3 separate regions of the Homo sapiens genome follow, and regions 2 and 3 are each linked to region 1. The links come from fine-mapping of genetic effects on gene expression. A gene starts in region 1. Each other region holds a variant in brackets. All regions are shown on one strand. Distances are from middle to middle.

Region 1 (8,000 bases):
GAAAGAGAACAGCAATGAAAGGAGGACTGAAGTGGGGCTTCCCAGTTCCCTACACATTCATAGGATTCCTCCAGGAACGCTGAACCATGGAGACTGAGGATTGAATTCAGTATGGCAGCCACGTTTCTGGGTGGTAGTTTAGCATTCTGAACAGATAATACATTCACGTGGTCGAGAACTAAACTAAAACAAGAAGGTATGTAGTAACACCCACCACCCTCCTACCCCAATCCCTAACCCTTTTTGCCTGACTTTCTGCTTCACCTCCACCACAGGTACTGTTAGTTTTCTCTTGTGTTCTCTACCAGAAGTTTCAATGCCAATGCCAATATAAACAAATGCAGGCTGGGCGTGGTGGCTCACGCCTGTAATCCCAGCACTTTGAGAGGCCAAGGCGGGCGGATCACCTGAGATGAGGAGTTCGACACCAGCCTGACCAACGTGGTGAAACCCTGTCTCTATTAAAAATACAAAAATTAGCCGGGCGTGGTGACGTGCACTGTAGTCCCAGTTACTCAGGAGGCTGAAGCAGGAGAATCACTTGAACCCGCGAGGCAGAGATTGCAGTGAGCCGAGATCGCGCCACTGCACTCCAGCCTGAGTGACAGAGCGAGACTCCCTCTGAAAAAAACAAAACAAATACAATATTAACACCCACCCCATTTTACCCAAAAGGTAGTGTTGTTCTGAACACACTATTCAGTAGCTAGCTTTGCGTATTCATGATCTATCTTGTAGAATGTTCCATACCAGCATCTAGAGAGGGTCCTCATCCTTTCTTTCTTTTACAGCTTCATAGTCGTGCATGGTTCACCAGCGTTATTACCTATTCATCTAGCCCCTCACTGATGGGGACTCAGGTTAGCCCTCACCTTCTGCCTTAAAAGTAAAGCTCAATGAATAACCCTGGATATATTTTGCACACATACAAGTGTATCTATTATCTATAGCAGTGACTTTCAGCCCCAGTCGAACGTAAGCATCACTCAGGGGGCTTTACAAAAATCCCCATACGGGTGGCACACAACTCTAATCCCAGCACTTTGGAAGGCCAAGGCGGGCAGATCACTTGAGCTCAGGAGTTCCAGACCAGCCTGGGCAACATGGCAAAAACCTGTCTCTACAAAAAAATACAAAAATTAGCCAGGCGTGGTGGCACGTGCCTGTAGTCTCAGCTACTTGAGTGGCTGAGGTGGGAGGATCGCTTGAGCCTGGGAGGTCAAGGCTGCAGTGTGCTGAGATTGCACCACTGTACTCCAGCCTGGGTGACAGAGTTTTTTGAGGCAGGCAAGACCCTGCCTTTAAAAAAAAAAAAAAAAATGCCGAGTGCGGTGTCTCATGCCTGTAATCTCAGCACTTTGGGAGGCCGAGGCGGGCAGATCACGAGGTCAGGAGTTCAAGACCAGCCTGCCAACCCCATCTCTACTAAAAATACAAACATTAGCCAGGCGTGGTGGTACGCACCTGTAACCCCAGCTACTCGGGATGCAGAGGTTGCAGTAAGCCGAGATCACGCCATTGCACTCCAGCCTGGGCAACAGAGTGAGATTCCTTCTCAAAAAAAAAAAAAAAAATCTCCATACCCAGGGCATATCTCAGACCAATTATATCAGAATGTCTGGGTGTGGGATCAGGGGACCCTGGTGATTCCCATGTCCAGCCATGGCTGGGCACCACTGACCCTATAGGGTAAATGGATTGATCAAGGGCACACAGACTTGTAAATTTGCTAGACATTGCCAACTGGCCTCTACGGCGGCTCCATGGGGGTTGTGTCAATTCACACTCCCACCAGCAATGTACAAGAGGACCTGGGTCTTCCACAGCCTCCCCAGCAAAGTAGGCTTGTCAAAGTTTTTTATTTTTACCAAACTGCTAGTTTATTTATTTATTTTTTAAAGGTATCTCAATTTTGCTTTAATTTGCATTTCTCTTACTAGGAGTTGAGGTTGAGCATCTTTTTGCATGTTTAAGATCATTTAATCTGTCTGGTCATATTCTGTGCCCATTGTTCTTTTCATTTTCTTTTTTTTAAGTTTGACTTCTCTATATTTTAGCAAGACTAATTCTTTACTTGAGTTGCAAACACTTTTTACTGCTTTGTCTTTTTATGTTTACACTTTGCATGAGGTGGTATGGTATGTTTTTTTTTTTTTTTCCTGGATCACTTTTTATGTGTTTGAATGTATTCATCTTTTCAATGGCTTTTGGATTTGGATTTGGGTAACATGGTTTATGGTTAGAAGGAAGCTCCCCATATTTTCTTCTGGCACTTTTGTGATTTCCTTTTTTTGAGACAGAGTCTCGCTTTATCGCTCAAGCTCGAGTGCAATGGTGCGATCTCAGCTCACTGCAACCTCTGCCCCCCGCCCCGGGTTCAAGCGATTCTCCTGCCTCAGCCTCCCAAGTAGCTGGGATTACAGTCGTCTGCCACCACGCCTGGCTAATTTTTGTATTTTTAGTAGAGATGGGCTTTCCCCCTGTTATCCAGGCTGGTCTCGAACTCCTGAGCTTATGAGATCCTCCCACTTCAGCCTCCCAAAATGCTGGGATTACAGGAGTGATCCACTGCGACTGGTCTGATTTCCTTTATTTGTGTTTAAATTTTTGATCCTTTTGGAATTTTCCCTGATCAAAGGATCCACCTTTGTTCTTCTTTCTAATGGCCAATTGTCCCATTACCCTTGTCAAGGAGTAAGGTAGGAATGGCTTTGTGGGGTATGAAATGTGAATTTCTTTTTGTCTTATTTATAACAGCATCTGCCTCTACTCTTCTGAAACTGTGTTCCTGTCCACCCACCCATTCAACTACCCATTGATTGACTGATTGATTGATTCATTCAATTTCTCGTTTTTGTTTTTTTGCTTGTTGAGAATTCTAACATTAATTGGACATTGTCCCTGACCTTTTGGGTTTCTATTTAGGATTTGTTTTTATCACTTAATAACCAACAATGATGACATTTTATCGAATGTCTAGTATATTTGTTCCAAGTATCATTTCAATTACACTTAAAACAAAGCAGTGATGTCAGTTATACTATTTTTCCCATTTGAGGAGTCATTTAAAAGAGGTTTTGAGGCTTTCCAATGGCCCCCAGTTGGAAAGTGGCAGTACTGGATGCAATTCAAGAGCCCAGTCTTCAGGATCCTGCCTTTTTACCTACCTGGACGCTGTAACTGGTCTCTGTGGAATGGCTGGATGAGGGAATGAATGAATGAGTCAGTGAAGGAATGAGGAAGACAGAATGAGTCAGCTCGTGCTTTCAGAGGAGCCCAAAGGGAGAGGTTAAGATAGGAATGCAAATGACCAGAATCCAGAGTAAACGCGAGCCCACCAGCGTTTTGGAAGCAGTCCACTTTCTACCCCCTCCTATTTAAAATGCTTCATTCTTTCCAGTTCCTCCCCACCTAGAATCCATGGAACCAAACGCTGGGGTAGGGACAGTGGCCAGCCTGTCTCCTTGGGTTTGACGCATTACATCATCCACGTGGAGGTCCCCTGTGGAGCTCTGCAGCCCTGCAGCCTCAGGGGCAGGGGGGTGGGGAGAATGAGGAAGGGGGAGAGGGGGAATAGGAGGAGGGAGTAGGGGACAGGGAGGGAGGAGATGCCAGGAGGGTAAGTGGAGAAGAGGGAGGCGAAGCCGGGGGCAGCAGGGGAGGGGGTCAAGGAGGAGGAAAGAGGAGAGCTTGGGGAGAAGGAAATAGGGAGGATGGAGAAGTTTTGGGCTGGGATAGGCAAGAAGAGGGAGGAGGAGAGAGGAAGAAGAATAAAGGGGGAAGGGAGAAAGAGGGGGAGGGAAGGGAGGGGGAAGAGGTCAGGGAAGTGGGGGAAGCAAGCAGTGGGGGAAGAAGAGGAAGGAGGAGGGAGAGGAGGAAGGCGGGGTGGGAAAGGGGGTTGGGGTAGTGGGAGTTTCCAGGGAGGGGTCGGGAGGGGAGGAGGGGAAGTGAGAAGGAGAAGGAGAGAGAAGAGGGATGTTGGGGGAGAAGAGAGCGGGAGGGAGGAGGGAGAGTGAGAGGGAGGAGGCAAAGCCCCTACTCCAGCCCCCACCGCGGAGTTGCGCAAGCCTTCCGGTCTGGGATTGGCCGCCAGAGAATCAAGACGCTCCGCCCCCGCAGCCCGACGGCCAATGAAGAGGCGGGCCGCCGCCTGGGCGGCCAATGGGCGCGGGGGGGCGGGGCGGGCCACGGCCTGGGGTCCCCGCGCGCTCTCCGTCCGCAGTGGAAGCCGCCGCCGCGCTCGCAGCTTGCAGGCGCCGCGTAGCCGTCGCCACCGCCGCCAGCCCGTGCGCCCTCGGCGCGTACCCGCCGCGCTCCCATCCCCGCCGCCGGCCAGGGGCGCGCTCGGCCGCCCCGGACAGTGTCCCGCTGCGGCTCCGCGGCGATGGCCACCAAGATCGACAAAGAGGCTTGCCGGGCGGCGTACAACCTGGTGCGCGACGACGGCTCGGCCGTCATCTGGTAGGAACTTTTCATTCGTCTCCACGCCCCGCTCCCCGGGCTCGCGCGGGGCCTCGTGCACCGAGCCGGCCTCCAGGCGGGACGGATTCGGGCCTCCCGCGCTGTCTTCCTCGCCTTATTCCGGGACGGCGTGCCAGGCCCCCGCGGGCTTCTCCGTGGCCAGCGCGTCTGTTAGATTGTCCTCTGCAAGCGCCGCGTCGCGCGGCCACCAGCGCTGATGTGTGTGTGTGTTTTTTTCTTCTCCCAACCCAAAGGGTGACTTTTAAATATGACGGCTCCACCATCGTCCCCGGCGAGCAGGGAGCGGAGTACCAGCACTTCATCCAGCAGTGCACAGGTAGGGAGGCGCGCCTGCCGGGCGGATGCGCGGTCGTTGGGAGGTTGTCTGCACCCGGGGAGCCCCGGCCAGAGCGAACCCGGGAGGAACCGGTGGCCACATGGGGTGCCCCTGGCGCATGGCGTGGGAGGAACCCGGTGTGAGCGTTTTAAGGCCTCATAAAACCTTCTCCCCTCTGGACATCCGAAGCAACAGAAGTGACCCACCTGCCTCCGCCATCCTACAATGCCTTCTCCAGGCGGGGCAGCTCTTTTGCCCCCTGCGGTCCACTGGTTTTCTAAGGTCAACTCCTGTGTTTCCAAACTCCAGTGTCCATCCAGCTCTTCCCACTGTCCCCTTTGATCAGTCACTGAGCCCAAATACGAACAGGCTAGGGGGCTGCTTGGAAGGGAAAGAAACTCAGCCGCGCCCTCCTTTCTCCCGCTATCATTGTCTGCCCGTGTGCTGATTTTATGTGATTTTTAATTTGACGAGTAGAATCAGATGCAAAAGAGTACACACCATATGATTCCATTTAGAAATCCTAGACAAGGCGAAACTAATCTATGGTGTGAATGTCAGAATCGAGATTAGCTTTTGGGGCTAGATAGCCACTGATGGGGAGGGGCACACCACCCGGACTGCTGGGAGCTGAAAATGTCTCTGTAGACATTTGTTGATCTGGGAGGGGGTTATGCAGGTGTGTACCCGCGTGAAAAATCATCAGACTGTATACTTAAGATTTGTGTGCCTTAGGCACTTCCCTGTGGCTTGTGAACCATGAAAAGAAAGACCACGTGGCAGGCATCGCCATAAACCCTTCGGTAGTGGCAGAGGCTCTGTGATGTTGGTAATGGGACCTTTTAAAGAGATTGGAGAATGCGACTCCCTCCCATCTCTGGTCTTTAGTTGGAAGCAAGCTTTCGGACAACGGCAGCACAGCCCGGAGGTTACGGCGTGGACCCTGAGCCAGACGGTGTGGGTTACTTATTTATTTATTTATTTATTTATTTATTTTTGAGACAGAATCTTCCTCTTTTGCCCAGGCTGGAGTGCAGTGGTACAATCTCAGCTAACTGCAACCTCCGTCTCCCGGGTTCAAGAGATTCTCCTGCCTCAGCCTCCTGAGTAGCTGGGATTACAGGCGCCCACGACCACGCCTGGCTAATTTTTTGTAATTTTAGTAGAGATGGGGTTTTCACCATTTTGGCCAGGCTGGTCTCTAACTTCTGACCTTAGGTGATCTGCCCACCTTGGCCTCTCAAAGTGCTGGGATTACAGGCGTGAGCCACTGCGCCCGGCCGACGGTGTGGGTTCGAATCCCTGAACGGCTGCTTCCTGGCTGTGTGGTTTGGAACGAGTTCCTTAATCTCTGGGGGTCTTGGTTTCCTCACCTGCACTCTCACAGTGCTGTTGCGAGGATAAGTGAGTCAGTATGTATAAAATGCTCAGAACAGTGCCTGTACAAGCTACATGATTGTTTGCGAAATAAATAAAAAGTACAAAATTGTGCCAGGGATCATGTGGGTGTTTCTTTCCTTAACTGCTTCCATAATCAAATTATATTTTGCATTTAGTTCAATTCAAAGGGTATTTGTGGTGTGACTACTAGAGGATGGGTGATACTGAGAACCCGCGTGCGCGCACACACACACACACACACACACAAAACTAAAATTACTCCTTGAGCGCTGCCTGTAGACATTCATTCATTGCTTTTGTAAACAGTTGGCCTAAAATCGCAGCATAAAGCACTGCAACGATGTGGAGAGTTGGCAGGGCAGGATTTGAACCCAGGCCTCCGTCCCTCCGCCTCTGTAGTTGAATGCTTTTGCAAGTGGAGTAAGTGCAAACTCTTAACTTTCTCCCCTCCGGTCCGTGAACAGCCAGGAGAGTCAGCAGTATTTCTGCTTTGCCGGCTCTGAGGCTATGCTTTACAGACCAGCTTCCCTCCCTAAATTCAGCTTCTTTCCTCCCGCTGGTCACCCATCCCTCCCTTCCCCCATCAAACCATGTTCTGCCTCTGAAGCTACTGTTCTCTCCAGCAAGTAGAAGGGGATGAGGAAAAGAGCATCCATCCCATCAGGAGGCTCCTGGCAGGTGCTCCCAGGCCTCAGCCCACTCTGGTGTAGTGGGAGAACACTTCCCTCCTCCCACAGGCTTGTGGTTTTCTGCTCAGACCCACCTCCTGCCCCCCAGGGATGGGAGTGGGGAGTGGCGCGTGTCTGGCGAGGAAGCTAAAAATGCTTCCCTGCTGTGTGTGGATCCTCATGAATGGGCCATGGGAGCTTCAGCTGCAGTGCTTTCTTTCCCCAGCCATCTGTTGGACAAATGCATAGGAGAATTATGGTTGCCGTGTCTGCTCTTGTTCCTCTCGGAAACGCTTGTTCCTTCCTGTCGTCGTGTCCTCATAACCCAGGGACAATGGACTCAACACTGGCACTGGCTGGATAGCAGTCACCACGCTCGACGTGCCTTATCTTGGTCATACCTCAGAACAGCCTGGTGTGGCAGGTACTAAGGTTACTCCTATTCTACAGATGAGGAAACGGAGGCCCAGAGAGGTTAATAGGCTTCCTGCATTCACCCAGCTAGAAAGTGGCAGAGTTGGGACTTGAACCCAGGCAGGCTGGCTCGGGGCAGGTGCTCTTGGCTTCTGAGGAGGTTGTTTAGATTCTCACCTCTCGTGGGATTGCTTGCAGGTTGCAAATGACATGGTTGCCCACTTGTGACTCAGAGAGGGCTCTTTTGTGGCCCCAGTTCCCTGCCAGGTATCCTGACAGGCCTGAGAAGAAAGGTTCCACTCTGGTTCGGGCTTCCTGCTTCCAAACATCTCACAAGGTGGCCAGCAGACTTGGAAGGCCAGAAACAGCACCCAGTTTCTTCCTTATAACCTCAGGGTGTGGGCCTTCCTGGGGTCCTGCTCTTCTCCCAACCCTCCCCACTCTGGCACTCAGGCATTCTCTCTGAAACACCCCCTTCCCTGGCCCTCCCACCTCAGGCTACTGTCCCTTCTCCCCTTCCTCCCCCACGGCTTTCCAGAATGGGATCTCTCCACCCAGCCTCCCCTCCTCATTTCTTCCCAGCCTCCTGGCCTGGCCTTTCCTCCCTCAGAGCTGTTTTCCAGAGGGCCACGGGGTGTCTGTGCTGCCAGGCCAGTTCCCTCCCACCCCCGCACTCATCCTCCCAATCTTTCTGCCTGCTCTGGGTCTGCGCTGCTTCT
Region 2 (8,266 bases), 52 kb after region 1:
TTTTAAATATGTCTCTGGTATGTAGTACAAGGTTTGAGGGTTTTTTTTTTGTAGTTTGAAACATAGCATTTTTAAAGATAATTTTGTTCATTTACATTTATTGTTATGTTTTACTAGATCTGCTGTCTGTTTTGCTTGTTTTTGTTTCATTATAATTTGATTTCCTAAGTACTTGTGGTTTTAGGTTGACCTGTGCCTAGCTCCATGTATCTTTCATTTGAGATTTCTTAGACCTTATCAAACTTATTTTTCTTTTTTTGAGATGGAATCTCGCTCTGTTGCCAGGCTGGAGTGCAGTGGCGCCATCTTGGCTCACTGCCATTTCTGCCTCCCAGGTTCAAGCCATTCTCCTGCCTTAGCCTCCTGAGTAGCTGGGATTACAGGCTCGCGCCACTACACCCAGCTGATTTTTATATTTTTAGTAGATTAGGGTTTTCACCGTGTTGGCCAGGCTGGTCTCGATCTCCTGACCTCATGATCTGCTCTCCTCAGCCTCCCAAAGTGCTGGGATTACAGGCATGAGCCACCATCCATGGCTCTCAAACTTATTTTTCTTAATCTAAATCTTCTAATAGCTAACCGACTGGAACTTCAAGTGTTCTTATTTCTGTAGATTGCCATATATAGCTATCACAAAGCAGAGGAACTTTGGACTTTTCTTCTATAAGCATCTTAAGCTGTTGGCTTCCTCCTTCTGAAAGCTCTCTGCCCCTCCCTCATGCCGTGGGGCTCAGGGTTGAGAAATACATTAATTCTCAATTCTCCTTTCTGGCTCTTACATCCAACTTGTGTTCTTTCATTGCACGGATCACATACACTTAGTAACACACTGTAGTGGGGTGGGAACAGAAAGGATCTCAAGGGTGTTCTGTCATTCTGGGCAAATCTCTCCAAGCCCAGCCCATGAGTCTTATCTTCAAAAAGTAAAATAAAATAAAGTTAATATACTGAGGGCTGAACGAGAACATGAGTGAGGCTGTTCCTGGCACACATCAGCTGCTTGATAAAAATTAACCTCCCGTTCTCCACTTTGTTAGTGTTCTCAGTGGCTTTGCGCGCCAAATGCATTGTCTTTTTATTGTAAAGCTTGACTTCGGGATGCTCCTGGGCTCATCATTCTTGGCAATATGGCGACTTTTTTGTTTTTTATTTTTTAATTGTGGTGGAATTCATTTAACATAAAATGAACCTTTTTATGTTTATTTATTTATTTTGAGACAGATCTCACCCTGTCGCCCAGGCTGGAGTGCAGTGGCGCGATCTTGGCTCACTGCAACGTCCGCCTCCCGGGTTCAAGCGATTCTCCTGCCTCAGCCTCCCCAGTAGCTGGGATTGCAGGCGCCCGCCACCACGCCCGGCTGATTTTTGTAGTTTTAGTAGAGATGGGGTTCCGCCATGTTGGCCAGGCTGGTCTCGAACTCCTGACCTCAGGTGATCTGCCTGCCTCGGCCTCCAAAGTGCTGGGATGACGGGCGTGAGCCACCGCACCTGGCCTGAACCATTTTAAAGTGTACAATTCAGTGGCTTTCAGAACATTCACAGTGTTGTGCAAGCCCTACCTCTGTCTGGTTCCAAAACTTTTTCATCACCCCAAAAGGAGATGGTGGCTCTTTCAAGACGCCAGCTTTGGCATCAACTGGACCTTCTGGTTGTCTGACTTCGGACAAGCATTGTAATTTCCAGCCTTTGTTTCCTCACCTTTAAAATGGAAATAATGTTGATCACCTTACGGGCCTTTTTAAAAAGAACTTGATTGAGGTATGATGTATGTACCTCAAAATCAAGTCATCCTAAGTGTACTTTTTCAGTACTTTTTCGTGAATTTGTGGAGTTGTGCACCCATTACCACAATCCCAATTTTAGAACGTCTCTATCATTTCCTGTTCCCATCTCCAGCTCTGTGTAACCACGAGTCTGCTTTCTGTCTGTATGGGTTTGCCTTTTTTAGACATTTATACCAATGGCAGCTGACAGTACATGGTCTTCATGCCTGGCTTCTTTCACTCAGCATCCTGTTTCCGAGGTTCATCCATGTAGTTGCGTGTGGCAGCGCTTCATTCCTCTCTGTGGCTGAGGAATATTCCATTGTGTGGACGGACCGTGTTTTGATAATCCACTCCTCTGTTGATGGACATAGGGGTTGCTTCCACCTTCCATGATTCATATTTACTACTGTGTGTCATTCTCAGTACTGTGGCACTGTGCTGGTACACATAAGTGCTTAATAATTGTGGTTAGCCGGGCGTGGTGGCTCACGCCTGTAGTGCCAACACCTTGGGAGGCCAAGCTGGGCGGATCACTTAAGGCCAGGAGTTTGAGACCAGCCTGGCCAATGTGGCGAAACCCTGCTTCTACTAAAAATACAAAAAATAGCTGGGTGTGGTGGCAGACGCCTGTAGTTCGAGCTACTTGGGAGGCTGAGACATGAGAATGGCTTGAACCCTGGGGGCAGAGGTTGCTGTGAGCCAAGATTGCGCCACTGCACTCCAGCCTGGGCAACAGGCTTTTCTCTCAAGAAAAAGAAAAATGGTGGTCATTGTTTATGTTATTTCCTTATGGGCTTTTTTTTTTAATGTGGATGATTTTCTTACCTTTAGACGTGTTATTTGTGGTTTTGATAGCTTTTTTTTGTCAAGCTGTCCGTCATCGTTCTGAAATTTTGTTTGTTAAAGTCTTATGATCCACATATGGCAGTAACTGTGTATCATCATGGCTTAAGGGTGTCTGATAAGCCAGGTCACCTGGTTCCCTCATTCATGCCACAAGCGTTTACTGAGTGCATCATGGGTGCCTGCGGGTTCTATGGGTGAAACCTGTGTACTGCAAGAGGAAAGACTGACTGCATCCATTTTGCTGAGCCCTGTAGCCCCACAGCCTGGCGTGGTATTTGTTGAAAGAAGGCAGAGCCTCTACCCTCGTGTAACTCAGTGCGGGTGGAGAGCCCATGGCAGACCCAGGACTGGAGGCTCCTGCGTCATTAGGAACATTGGTGGCTGAAGCTTGCTTGTCCCAGCTGGCGAGAGCCAATTACGCCTGTCTCCTTCCACCTCCACGTATGGTGACATCACTTTGATAGCTTGACGTCAGCCACTGGGGGACTATTTACATCATGGATATGGGCAAAAGACACCAATCTGAGCTTTTGTCCTTTTCTTTTTTTTGGAGTGCCTGCACACCCGTGAGCCTTTCCAACCTCGTAACCTATTATTTTCCTGACGAGATAGTTTTTTACAGATGAGAAAGTTGAGGCACAGAGAATTGAAGGGACTTGGCCAAGGTAACAGCCCAAATTCAAGCCCCAGCTTCCTCGGGCCATCCCCACGGACATGGGAAGACGCAGCATCAGATCTGCCCCACTCCCTCCTCCCAGTCAGGTTTTTTCTGCCAGATGACTCTGCTGTTCAATTTCCATTGACTCTGCTGCTGAATTTCCATTGACTGACTCTGCTGCTGAATTTCCATTTCCATCTCTCATCAGGGTTTTCAGTGCTTTGCTTCCCAGTGTGTTGCCTGAGCCACCCTCACATCCTGTGCCTTCCTTCTTAATAGGAACGCTGTGTTTTCCTTTGTTCTTGCAGAATTTCGCTAAGGAGTTTGTGATCAGTGATCGGAAGGAGCTGGAGGAAGATTTCATCAAGAGCGAGCTGAAGAAGGCGGGGGGAGCCAATTACGACGCCCAGACGGAGTAACCCCAGCCCCCGCCACACCACCCCTTGCCAAAGTCATCTGCCTGCTCCCCGGGGGAGAGGACCGCCGGCCTCAGCTACTAGCCCACCAGCCCACCAGGGAGAAAAGAAGCCATGAGAGGCAGCGCCCGCCACCCTGTGTCCACAGCCCCCACCTTCCCGCTTCCCTTAGAACCCTGCCG[T/C]GTCCTATCTCATGACGCTCATGGAACCTCTTTCTTTGATCTTCTTTTTCTTTTCTCCCCCTCTTTTTTGTTCTAAAGAAAAGTCATTTTGATGCAAGGTCCTGCCTGCCATCAGATCCGAGGTGCCTCCTGCAGTGACCCCTTTTCCTGGCATTTCTCTTCCACGCGACGAGGTCTGCCTAGTGAGATCTGCATGACCTCACGTTGCTTTCCAGAGCCCGGGCCTATTTTGCCATCTCAGTTTTCCTGGACCCTGCTTCCTGTGTACCACTGAGGGGCAGCTGGGCCAGGAGCTGTGCCCGGTGCCTGCAGCCTTCATAAGCACACACGTCCATTCCCTACTAAGGCCCAGACCTCCTGGTATCTGCCCCGGGCTCCCTCATCCCACCTCCATCCGGAGTTGCCTAAGATGCATGTCCAGCATAGGCAGGATTGCTCGGTGGTGAGAAGGTTAGGTCCGGCTCAGACTGAATAAGAAGAGATAAAATTTGCCTTAAAACTTACCTGGCAGTGGCTTTGCTGCACGGTCTGAAACCACCTGTTCCCACCCTCTTGACCGAAATTTCCTTGTGACACAGAGAAGGGCAAAGGTCTGAGCCCAGAGTTGACGGAGGGAGTATTTCAGGGTTCACTTCAGGGGCTCCCAAAGCGACAAGATCGTTAGGGAGAGAGGCCCAGGGTGGGGACTGGGAATTTAAGGAGAGCTGGGAACGGATCCCTTAGGTTCAGGAAGCTTCTGTGTAAGCTGCGAGGATGGCTTGGGCCGAAGGGTTGCTCTGCCCGCCGCGCTAGCTGTGAGCTGAGCAAAGCCCTGGGCTCACAGCACCCCAAAAGCCTGTGGCTTCAGTCCTGCGTCTGCACCACACATTCAAAAGGATCGTTTTGTTTTGTTTTTAAAGAAAGGTGAGATTGGCTTGGTTCTTCATGAGCACATTTGATATAGCTCTTTTTCTGTTTTTCCTTGCTCATTTCGTTTTGGGGAAGAAATCTGTACTGTATTGGGATTGTAAAGAACATCTCTGCACTCAGACAGTTTACAGAAATAAATGTTTTTTTTGTTTTTCAGAAAACAGTTTGGTTTCTGATTTGTCCTACAAAGTTCTTTTTTTTTTTTTGCTGTAATAACAGAGGCAGTCATCATCGCCTTCAGATTTAATAGGTGTTTGCGGAGCTGCTGAGGCGGGGCACATTCACATTCAATTGCTTATTTAATTCTTAGCAACCATAAGAAACAGGTGCTGCTTTTGTCCCCATTTCCTGAAATCTGAGGCTCAGAGGGATTCATTCACCCGAGGTCACCCAGATAGAAAGTGGCAGAGCTGGGATTTTTTTTTTTTTTTTTTTTGGTGACAGAGTCTCACTCTGTGGCCCAGGCTGGAGTGCAGTGGGGAGATCTCAGCTCACTGCAACCTCCATCTCCCAGATTCAAGAGATTCTCCTGCTTCAGCCTCCATAGTAGCTGGGATTACAGGTACCCGTCACCATGCCTGGCTAATTATTGTATTTTTAGTAGAGATGGAGTTTCGCCATGTTGGCCAGGCTGGTCTCGAGCTCCTGACCTCAGGTGATCTGCCCGTCTTGGCCTCCCAAAGTGCTGGGATTACAGGCGTGAGCCACCACACCCGGCCAGAGCTGGGATTTGAACTGAGATCTCTCAAAGTCCCTGGTGCTGTGGCTTGTGAGGGGAGCGGGGAGGCCACACATTTGGGATAGCGATGGGACCACAGGTAGTGATTCTTTTTGAGTGGCCAGAACTCCCCTGTCTGCCTGTTTAGGAAAAGCCAAGAGAAAGCATCTTCCTCGTTGGCCATGACATCCTTTCTGAGGTTATCCTACAGCTGAGAAACTGGACTTCCAGCACACCAGACCCTGTGGGAGCCCAGAATCAGGGCAGAGGAGTTTCAGACACAGACAGCGGGGCTTGGAGGAGCTGAGTGTGGGGCAGGGAGAGTGCGGAGAGAGGGCAGAAGCCGAAATCAGGGCAGGAAGGAATCCTACAAGGTATGGGCAAGGCCCTGATCATGCTGCCCAGGGTGGCAGGGGGCCATAGGTCACCACCCTCCCCAGCCCCAGCCCGCCCCAGCCACGTCTGGGTTCTAATTTCTGCTCATCTGTTCACAGCTGTGTGGATTTAGGCAATTTAGTTAACCTCTCAGCCTCGGTTTCCTCATCTGCAAAATAGACAACATTGCCTACGTGTAGAAAGGCTTAAGGAGCAGCGAGGATTGTGCAGGCAAAGGGCGCCTGTCAGGGTGCAGTGTTCTTATCTCACGCCTGCCACTGGTCTTGTTAGCTCTGTGGGCTTCCGTCTTTTCCTATACCCAGAGCTGAGGGAGCTAAACTAGGTCCGTTCCCAGTGCACGGGTTTTAGCTCCGTTCAGAACATGGGCTCAGTAGGTGCATGACTTCATGTCACTCATGCACTGCGTCCCGCAAGCCTTCCATCCTCTCCTGGAATCTCCTGGTCGGCCAAGCCCTCCTCCAGGCCCACTGCCCACCCCACTCCCTGCCCCAAAGCAGACTAGAAAGAATGAGCAGCTCTCAAATCTGCCCCTAGGCCTGTGGTCTCATCCCTGGCTGTGAATTAGGATCACTGGGAGCTTTGAAAATACAGATGAGGCCTCTATCCCAGACTAGTGAGTGAAATTGGAGTGCCAGACTCAACGAACGCCAGCTTTTCCTTTCCAGACAGCTGCAGAAGTGGCCCTGATCCCGGGCAGGAGGGGCTGGAAGGGAGGCCTGCCTCTCCCTCTGTGGGTTCCTCTCGTGAGTGGAATCTTGTTTGTTTTCATTTTGTTAGTTTTGAGACAGGGTCTCACTCTGCCACCCAGGCTGGAGTGCAGCGGCACAATCACAGCTCACTGCAGTCTCCATCTCCTGGGCTCAATCGATCCTTCTGCCTCAGCCTCCTGAGTAGCTGGGACTACAGGTGTGCACCACCATGCCCAGCTAAGTTTTGTATTTTTTTAGATAGGAGGTCTCCCTATGCTGCCCAGGCTGGTCTCAAACTCCTGGACTTGAGCGATCCTCCCACCTCAACCTCTCAGAGTGTAGGGCTTACAGGCGTGAGCCACTGCACCCAGCCATGACTGGAATCTTGAAGGGCAAGTGCAGACAGGTTTATTGAGCACCTACTATGTGCCAGGCACTGGCCTAGGTATGGGGATTTGATGATGAACAAACTCAGACAGCCCCCACCCTCAAGGAGGCTGAGTCTAGCAGGGATGATGGATATTAATCAGCTTGTCCCACCAGAGGGTGTGTGTTTCCAGATGAGGATAAGTCTCCTTCAGAGAAAAAAGCCCAGGTTCCATGAGAGCTCACAAGGGCCCTGGATCTGGCTAGGGTATGGGGGAGGGCTTCCCTAAGGAGGTGGTACCTGAGCTGAGAACGCGGGGAAAGGAGGGGAGGAACAGGAAAGCGTGGACATAAGCTCCATGGAATGTTTGCCCACGGGTGAGCCAGGGTCTGAAGCAGCTTGTTCGTGTGTCAAGGAGCTTGGCTTTAACTTGAAAACTGCAGCTTGGGCCTTTGCTGGGGATCCCAAGGGATCATGAGACCACTGAAGGCAGAGAAACCTTGCCTTTTTTTTTTTTTTCTGAGACAGAGTCTTGCTCGGTCACCCAGGCTGGAGTGCAATGGCGCTATGTCGGCCCACTGCAACCTCCGCCTCCTGGGTTGCAGCGATTCTCCTGCCTCAGCCTCCCCAGTAGCTGGGGTTACAGGTGCCCGCCACCATGCCCAGCGAATTTTTGTGTTTTTAGTAGAGACAGGGTTTCACCATGTTGGCCAGGCTGGTGTCTAACTCCTGACCTTGTGATCCACCCACCTCGGCCTCCCAAAGTGCTGGGATTACAGGCGTGAACCACCACACTCAGCCCTATTTCTCAGCTGTGCCAGGTGTTTATACCCCAGAGGTTATCTGGGGCTGGTGAGGGAGTCCAGGCCCAGGGTGCGGCCCTGGCTGGGGGAAAGTTCCCGTGCAGCTCCTGCCCTGAGGATGGGCTGCCCTCGTTGAAATCTTTCTGTTCCCCATTTCTTAGTGAACCATAAAAGAGAGAAACAAGAAGCAGAAAATGTGCATAGTCCAAGTGATGTAGAAAGAATTTTTTGAAAGAACCAGAAACGGCCGCGGCCACCAGATGACTCAGTAAGAGACAGTAGGCAGCACAGCCGTGGCTCAGAGCTCAGCCTTGGGCTCAGGTTTGAGTCCGAGGTCCGTGGTTCACCCGCCAGATGACCTTGGCCAGTAGTGTCACCTCTCTGAGCCTCAGTTTCCCCCTCTAAAGATCACAGCACTTCCCTCATGCATTTATTACAAGGACTAAGTGAGCTGAGCCTTGCCAGGTGCTTAGCGTGATGTGATCTGTTAGATTCCGATGGGGACTCTGCACAGTC
Region 3 (8,266 bases), 24 kb after region 1:
GTCCTTTGCAGGAGCCAAAGCTCCATCATTGGCTTCTGATGAGGCTTCATAGACCAGTGGAAGGAAGGGTCCGGCTCTTTTGAGAGTGAAGTTTTATTAACGTTAAACATAACAGCTGTGTCTTTTCATGAACAAGACTCTCTCTGGGTGGGAAGGGGAGGGCATCCATAGTCTTCAAATCAGGGACATCCAGCGTGCAATTGGCCTGGGCTCTGAGTGCATGACACCGACCAGAAGGAAACCACCGTCCTCAGGATGGGGCTCCTGACCTTGCTGTATCCTCAGTGACGGCAGCCCTGAGATGGGGCTCAGTGTGATGCTATGATATGCATCTGAATCCTCGTGGCTTATGGGCAAGCAGAGGAGCTAGAGGCAGCACAGGCAGAAAGGCCTCCTGGTACCCAGGGCTGATAGTCAGTAGCTCTCTTGCTAATGATGGCTGTTCCCTCTCTTGGGGTGTGGGATTTTGGGGAGGGAGCACTGGAGGGACTGTCCTGGTGGTCTTTGATGGGCGTGCTCAGGAACCACGGACTCTGCAGGAAGCTGCTTCATGCAGTCATTTGCTTAAAATAAAAGGCAGACAGGCAGCAAGGAGGGCGTGGGGGCTGAACTCTGAGCACTTCAGCTTTTCTGTCCTTGAGACCTTTGTCTCGTCCCCTCTCCCAACAGTGAGTTCTCACCATTTCCTCTTCTCCACCTCTTCCTCTAAGTCAGTGGGTCTCAAGGTTTGGCAGCCTCAGAATCACCCTGGGGCTCATTCGAGCACAGTTTCAGAGCTCCACTCCCAGCGTCTGGATCAGTAGGGCTGAGTGGAGCCTGAGTACCCACATTTCTAATAAGTTCCCGGGTGCTGTGGTGCTGCTGGTCCGAGGACCACACTTTGAGAACTGCTGCTGTGGACTTCAGCAGCTCTGCAGCGGGCAGGGAGAATTGTGTGGCTCATTCTCACTTCACCTCTCCAAGCCTCAGTTTCTTCATCTGTGAAATGGGACTGCGATCTGTGCTGCCCTCACAGAGGAGAAGAATCTGCAGTGTGCAGATTCTTAGAGTGGGGACTGGCCCCTCATAAGTGCTTAGTAGACTTGGGGCTCAGTTACCTCTCAGACCTTCACTGTCTTCCATCTCTCCTCAAGAAAGACTCACAGAAGGAGTGACTCCGTGACTGTGTGCCTCGGAGTGCCTCACTCTGAAACCCAGAGCTGGATGCAGAAAGTGGTCCCCATTCTACAGCTGGAACAGCTGAGGCTCAGAGCATGAAGCACCCTCATCTGATGTTCCATAGCTAGAAGGAAGCCGGCTGGGATGCGGCCCCTGCTAGGATGCGGCCCTGGCTGGGATGCGGCCCTGGCTGGCTGATCTCTGGAGTTTGTGCTCTTCTAAGTGCTCCAGATTGCCTTAGCGAACAGTTGTGTGTAAGGGGTGCGAGGTGCCAGGAAATGGCGAGAAACAGAGGGCAGACTCTGTCCACCTTGTTAAGGACAGAGCAGTGGAGAGTTGTGAGGGCAGGGGCTGGTGCGTCAGTGTTCTGTGGTGGTAGCTGAGATCTCCCAGGGAGAGAGTGTCAGGGGAAAGGAGAGGATGAGGTGGAACCCTGGGGAGTGTGTGTGTGGAGACAGAGGGGGTGGAAGAGCCGGGGAGAAAGTAGAAGGCGGGATCAGTGCTCTGAGAACCAAGATGGCACCATGCCCTGGGTGCCGTGGGAAGGGAGAGGTTCAAGGAGGGCAGAATTGATAATGGCGTGAAACGCCACCAGTGGGCATGGAGAAGATGCTGTTGGCTTTGGCAATTAGGAGGCCCCTGTGGACCCCTGAGGGCAGTTTCACTGGAGAGGTGTTGGGGGTCAAAAATCAGCAATGATTCCCATCAGCCAACCCTTCAGATCTCATTTCTTTTTCATGTAATCCTCCCAACCACTTTATGAGGTAAGTATTTGACCCATTTTGTGGATGAGGAAACTGAGGCTTAGAGACATTCAGGACTCTGGGCTGGGTCACAAGGCTAGTACATGTGGGGGTAAGTTTCTAAAGGATTCTGGAATTTGAACTTGCACCCTGGACATTGCAGAGAAGGTTAAGGGTATAGACCACTCCCCTGTGCTGAGGGCTCCAGCAGAAGGAGCTCATGGCATCTGTCTCTGGTACCTGTGTTTGGGTGAAGTCCTGGGTCCCCCGTCCCCCACTGGGGTTGCCCAGTCTCCCTGTCTCCTCTGCGTAGACCTGGACTCTCAGCTTCAGTTTGAAGAGATGGACCATTGGCCCTGTTGGGGACCAAGTGGCACAGTGAGGGTGATGGAAAGCCCAGGTACCAACCTTCTTCTGGGCAGTTTTGCCGTCTTAGTGCATACACACACACATATACACATACATGTATATATAACACACATACACATACACATACATGTATATATATAACACACACATACACATACATGTATATATAACACACATACACAAATACATGAATATATATACACACATATATACACCTGTACTCACAAATGTATGTATATACACACATATACAAACACACCTGTACACATATAGACACATATTATACACACAAATATATGTATATATACACATACACAAATATATACGCACACACATATCACACTAATATATACAGGACAGCGTTTCTCTGTGCCCTTTAGTAGATATGCCAGTGTTCCCGCGTACAGGAGTGACAATAGCCCGACATAGACGAGGGAGCCTAGGGCTCCCCACTGCTGATGTGGGGCTGTGACTGCCACTGGGGTTTGTGGACCCAATTTGTTCAGAAGAGGGAAAGTAACTAAACCAGGGATGAAGAACTAGCGATTCCCCTTCCACTGCCCAGTGTGAGGTCAAAAGGGACCGAGAACCTCCTTCAGGGTGAGCAGGGTTGGGGAGAGGCCTCCAGTCTGCCGGGCAGCTGCAAAAACGGTGCGCAGACCAACAGGTTTTCCGTCTCCGACTCAGCTGACCCGTCACTGTCGTGCCAGATCTCTAGCAGCAAACATTTGTAAGCATAACGTGACTCGGATTTTCAAAAACAGGCCTGTCAGCAATCTTGTTGACCAAACCATTGTCGGATAAGCACGCAGCAGTCACCTAGCAAACCACGTCCCTCTTTACCCCGCTCCCCCACGATCATTTAAATGACATCAGGCTGTGGTTCTGGAAGGTTCCCAGTGTCCTTGGGGTTGTGGGTGTAACTTACTTATTGTACATCTATCTTGTGCCAGGCCCTGGGCTGGTACTTGGGACACAGGGACAATGCCTGTGGTTCTTCAACAAGAATCTGTGACCCTCCGGGGGCAAAGGGTGTTGCCCAAGGTAGACCTGGGGAGGTCTGAAAGAGGGGAAGGGTGGATGTGGAGGGTTGGAGGTGCGCAGAGCATGGCCGGCATGTGGAGGCACTTGGCAGCCAGCAGAGAGGGCAGACGCTGGAAAAGCCATGGAGCTCCGCAGAGGAGCCAGCCAGAGCCGTGGGAGGGGGCGACACTGAGAAGAGAGAGAGGCTGGGAGAGCTGGCTCAGCCCGAAGCCTTGGCCATGGGCTGAACACATGGTTGAGGTCCCCAAAAACTGCGTTGGCCCAAAGCAGGGCTGGTAACTTACCTCCATGGAGGCTTGGGCCAGGGATGGGTAGTTTGGATCCAAGTCCGGGCTGACCAATGTGGAAATGGGAACCCGAGAGCGGTTACCATGGAAACACACTCACCGTGTTCTTTTGCTTGTGAAATGCAGTCGGAGGC[G/A]GATGTTCAGCCCCTCCTCCCCCTCAGGTCAAGGCTGCCATTTAATTAAGCACTTTGGTGTTGATGCTCTGACGACACTCCTCAAAACAGAGCCCTGGCTTCCCAGACACCACGGGGACTGCTGAGAAATGCTCTCGAGCTAAAGCGCTGCTCCCCCACACTCCAAGTCTGCACCAGCCGCCTGTGGCTGCGCACTTTGCACCTTACAAGTGAGGAACTGCCATCTCTTGCACCAGTCTCGTTTCCTGTGCGCTGTGGCCACCTGGCAGCCCCGCCCTGTGTCAGGAGCTTTAGGTTGGAGGTTCCACCCTGATGGGCTAGGTGGGTTTTGTAGCTTTCACTTTCAGTCATCATGGTCAACTGATAAGGGAGGCGTGAAATCACCCCATTTTGGAAGGATCCCAAATGTCTATCAACTGATGCACTGATAAGCAAAATGTGCTCTCTCCATGCAATGGAGTGCTGTTCAGCCATAAAAGGAATGAAGTGGTGACCCGCACATGCGGCAGCAGGGATGATCCTTGGAGATGTGACGCTGAGTGAAAGCCAGACCGCAGAGGCCACATAGCATATGAGTCCATTTCAATGAAATGTCCAGCACAGGCCAATCCATAGAGACAGAAAGTGGAAGAGTGGCTGCCAGGGCCTGGGGGAATGGGGTGGAGAATGGGGAGTGACTGTTCTTGAGGACGGGAGTTCTCGTTGGAGTGGTGAAATTAGATAGTAGCGATGATGGCACAACATTGTGAGTGTCCTTAAAGCCACTGAATTGGATGCTTTAAAGTGGTTAAAATGGCCGGGCGCGGTGGCTCACGCTTGTAATCCCAGCACTTTGGGAGGCCGAGGTGGGCGGATCACGAGGTCAGGAGATCAAGACCACGGTGAAACCCCGTCTCTACTAAAAATACAAAAAATTAGCCGGGCGTGGTGGCGGGCGCCTGTAGTCCCAGCTACTCGGGGGGCTGAGGCAGGAGAATGGTGTGAACCCGGGAGGCGGAGCTTGCAGTGAGCCGAGATCGCGCCACTGCACTCCAGCCTGGGCGACGGAGCGAGACTCCCTTCTCAAAAAAAAAAAAAGTGGTTAAAATGGTGAATTTTGTTATGTGACTTTTATCTCAATAAAGAAAAGAACGTGTTTTACAGGTGAGGCAGCCCAGGCTGATGTTTGGGAATTCAGGCACAGTCCCCGGGGCATGGGAGGTGGGGCCCTCACCCCTCGGGGTCTCCTGTGCCCTGGACTCCTCTGTCCTCACCTTCTCACATCCAGTTGGTCACCAGGCCCTGTGGATTCACCTGCGCAGTGTCCCTGAGACCATCCTTCCTTCTATCCCTGCTGCGTTGTTACCTACTGACCCCCAGATAGCCATGGCCTGGTGGGGCATTTCCCTGGAGAAAGGGGGCTGAGCACACACACCCAAGGTGTCCAGGCCCTTGGCTCTGGCCTCGTGTTGAGAGTCTGGCCACATCACGTGGCCTCTGAGCCTCCAGCCCTTATCAATGAAGGTGATTTGGATGTTGATGATGAAAGTGGCCATGACGTCTCTACCTCATCTGCCTCCCAGCGTTGTTACAAAGACCAAATGAGATGAAATAGAAGCATGTTTTGTAAACTGAAAAGTGGTGTGCCAATGTGAGTGGTGATGACGATCAGTTTCCTTTAAGAAGTAAGTGTTGTGGAGTCCCTGACCCTGGACTGCAGCTAGGATCACGCATTCATGGTCTGCTGAGAGCTGCGTGTTCCTTAGCTCCCGGGGACAAATGGATGACCCGTTAGACCACCCGGCTTCTTGTTGAAGGCGAACGTGCTGGTTACCCCCTCCGGTTTTGAGATAATCACCAGGAAGTGAGCTTGTCAGCTGCAGGCCAGTATCTCCTGTAGACAGGTGGTTTGTGTCCTTGGGTCTTGGTGCTAACCTACATGCTTCGTGCGGGACTCTGCAGGGACGTACTTAGATTCTAGGAAGAAACGCAGATTGATTTTTTTTTTTTTTTTTAACTCAGTGTGATCCTTTGACCAGTAGCATCAGCATCACTGGGAAGCTTCTTAGAAGCGTAGACCCCAGAGCTGTTTAATCAGAAGCTGCGTTTAAGATTTCCCCAGTGATTCAAATCCACACAATGTTTGAGAAGCAAACATATCGCTCTACGATATCATTAGGTGCCTGAGAAACCCTCACACCAGCAACTAAACGCCCTGAGAGAGCATCAGTTTATGCAAGTGGCTAATACAAGGTGAATGACTCCAAACCAGTGGCATCCCTATGTGCCAGCAACCACCACTTAGGAATTGTAATGAGATCTTGGTGATAATGGCAGTTAAAATATGAACTGTTTGTGAAGTAAGCTGAATAAGGATATGTGATCCCCTCAAGAGGCACAGAACTTTGTTGGAAAACACAAAAGGGGTCCCAATTAAATGGGGACACCAACGGTTTACAGCAGAGGTTCTCAACTGGGGGTGTTCTGCCCCCTTTGGAGGACATCTGCAATGTATGGAGGCATTTTTGTTTGTCATAACTGGTGGGGCCAGGTGAGGGGTGCTGCTCAGCACCCTGCAATTTACGGGATGGTTCCTACCAGAGAGAATGATCTGGCCCCAGATGCCAGTTGAGCTGATGTTGAACAATTTTGGTTTATCCTAGTGGGGTACACATGCACCCGCATGCACACGCACACACATGCAATGCACACATACACATGCACGCACATATTTTTATTTTATTTTATTTTATTTTATTTTATTTTATTTTATTTTATTTTATTTTATTTGAGACAGGGTCTCAGTTGGCCACCCAGGCTGGAGTACAGTGGCGTAATCTCTACTCAACTGCAGTCTCAACCTCCTGGGCTCAAGTGATCCTCCCACCTTAGCCTCCCTGGTAGCTGGGACTACAGGTGCCTGCCACCGTGCCCAGCTAATTTTTTGGTTTTTTTTTTTTTTTTTTTTTTTTTTTTTTTAGAGAGGTGATTTCTCCATGTTGCCCAGGTTGGTCTCAAGCTCTTGGGCTGAAGTGATCCTCCCACCTTTGCCTCCCAAAGTGCTGGGATTACAGGGGTGAGCCACCATACCTGGCCAATACACACATCACTTTAAAAATTCAAAAAATCAGGCTGGGCGCGGTGGCTCACGCCTGTAATCCCAGCACTTTGGGAGGCTGAGGCGGGTGGAATACAAGGTCAGGAGATCAAGATTCATCCTGGCTAACACAGTGAAACCCCATCTCTACTAAAAATACAAAAAATTAGCCAGGTGTGGTGGTGGGCGCCTGTAGTCCCAGCTACTCGGGAGGCTGAGGCAGGAGAATGGTGTGAACCCTAGAGGCCAAGCTTGCAGTGAGTCGAGATCGCGCCACTGCACTTCAGCCTGGGCGACAGAGCGAGACTCTGTCTCAAAAAAAAAAAAAAAAATTCCAGAATATCAAATGATATTTTGATAATACAGAGCAGTGGAGGGTGGGGGAACTTAGCATAGTGGATTGTGAAACAAATTTTAAAGTCATGATAATAAAAACAGTGTGGCATTGAAATAAAACTTAATGTGGATCAATGGAACAAAATAGCCCTCAAAGCCATTTTAATAAAAATGACTATATAAGATAGAACAAGCATAACACAGCCAATGGAAATGTGTTCAGAATTCATTGTTGACCTAATTGCCCTAGTCATAAGTGAAATATCCTCGGAGCCATATCCCGGGCCAAATTAAGAGCCATTTTCTTTGTTTCCTCTTCATACCCAGCACCCCCCTTGCCCCTCCTGTCTCTCTACAGTGTAGAGTCTCATTCCAAACTGCAAAGATTGAGGCAAAAAGAGTTGATGAATTTCTGGTCTACAAAGAGGATGAATTTCTGGTCCCTAAATAAGATCCATAATTTGAGCCTTTTTAAATTTTTATTTTTAAATTTTTTTTGGCTGGGCCCTGGCACTGCTGGCGGCACCCACATCTGTGCAATGGGCCCACCCAGACTTTGAGCCTTGATTGTAGGAAGGCTGTAGGCGTTGCAGCCAGAAAGGCCTGGGTTTAAATCCCAGCATGACCTTGAATTCCCTCACAACCTTGAAAGTGCCATGTGACTTCTCTGAATCTCCATTTCCCATCTGTGAAATGGGCATGAAGCCTGCAGCACTGTTGCCAGGATTCAGGGGAGTGTGACAAGGGCAGCGGATGAGTGCTTCCCTCCTGTCCTCTGCACATGGTGCTCCCAGGGAACTGCACCGGTCTCCTGCTGTGCTGCTCCAGGCGCACTCGTGGCTCACAGCCTCTCCCCAGGGACATGACATGGGGGTGTTTTAACGCAGCACCATGTTCTCTTTTCGCTTTTGGCCACAGATGACGTCCGGTTGTTTGCCTTCGTGCGCTTCACCACCGGGGATGCCATGAGCAAGAGGTCCAAGTTTGCCCTCATCACGTGGATCGGTGAGAACGTCAGCGGGCTGCAGCGCGCCAAAACCGGGACGGACAAGACCCTGGTGAAGGAGGTCGTACAGGTACTGAGTTCCTCCAGAGTCTGGAGGTCAAAGCTCGCCAAGG

Evidence for each region.
Region 2: its variant is fine-mapped to the expression of COTL1 in whole blood (TOPMed, PIP above 0.99). The same link has a PIP of 0.9 or more in blood mononuclear cells.
Region 3: its variant is fine-mapped to the expression of COTL1 in whole blood (TOPMed, PIP above 0.99).

What each region holds. Positions count from the first base shown.
Region 1 is chr16:84,614,299-84,622,298 of GRCh38, reverse strand. It overlaps COTL1 (coactosin like F-actin binding protein 1), which reads left to right and starts at 4,221. Exons shown (of 4, transcript NM_021149.5): 1 at 4,221-4,461; 2 at 4,716-4,798. The coding sequence starts at 4,385. RefSeq lists silencers at 3,963-4,322, 4,343-4,392 and an enhancer at 7,613-8,000.
Region 2 is chr16:84,562,268-84,570,533 of GRCh38, reverse strand. It overlaps COTL1 (coactosin like F-actin binding protein 1), which reads left to right. Exons shown (of 4, transcript NM_021149.5): 4 at 3,579-4,938. The coding sequence ends at 3,689. Among named protein-coding and RNA genes, the nearest start is that of COTL1, 52 kb to the left of the region's middle. RefSeq lists an enhancer at 7,778-8,266. The variant T/C (reference allele first, on the strand shown) is at 3,869.
Region 3 is chr16:84,590,062-84,598,327 of GRCh38, reverse strand. It overlaps COTL1 (coactosin like F-actin binding protein 1), which reads left to right. Exons shown (of 4, transcript NM_021149.5): 3 at 8,066-8,223. Among named protein-coding and RNA genes, the nearest start is that of COTL1, 24 kb to the left of the region's middle. RefSeq lists enhancers at 1-291, 292-793, 4,137-4,436, 7,502-8,001. The variant G/A (reference allele first, on the strand shown) is at 3,736.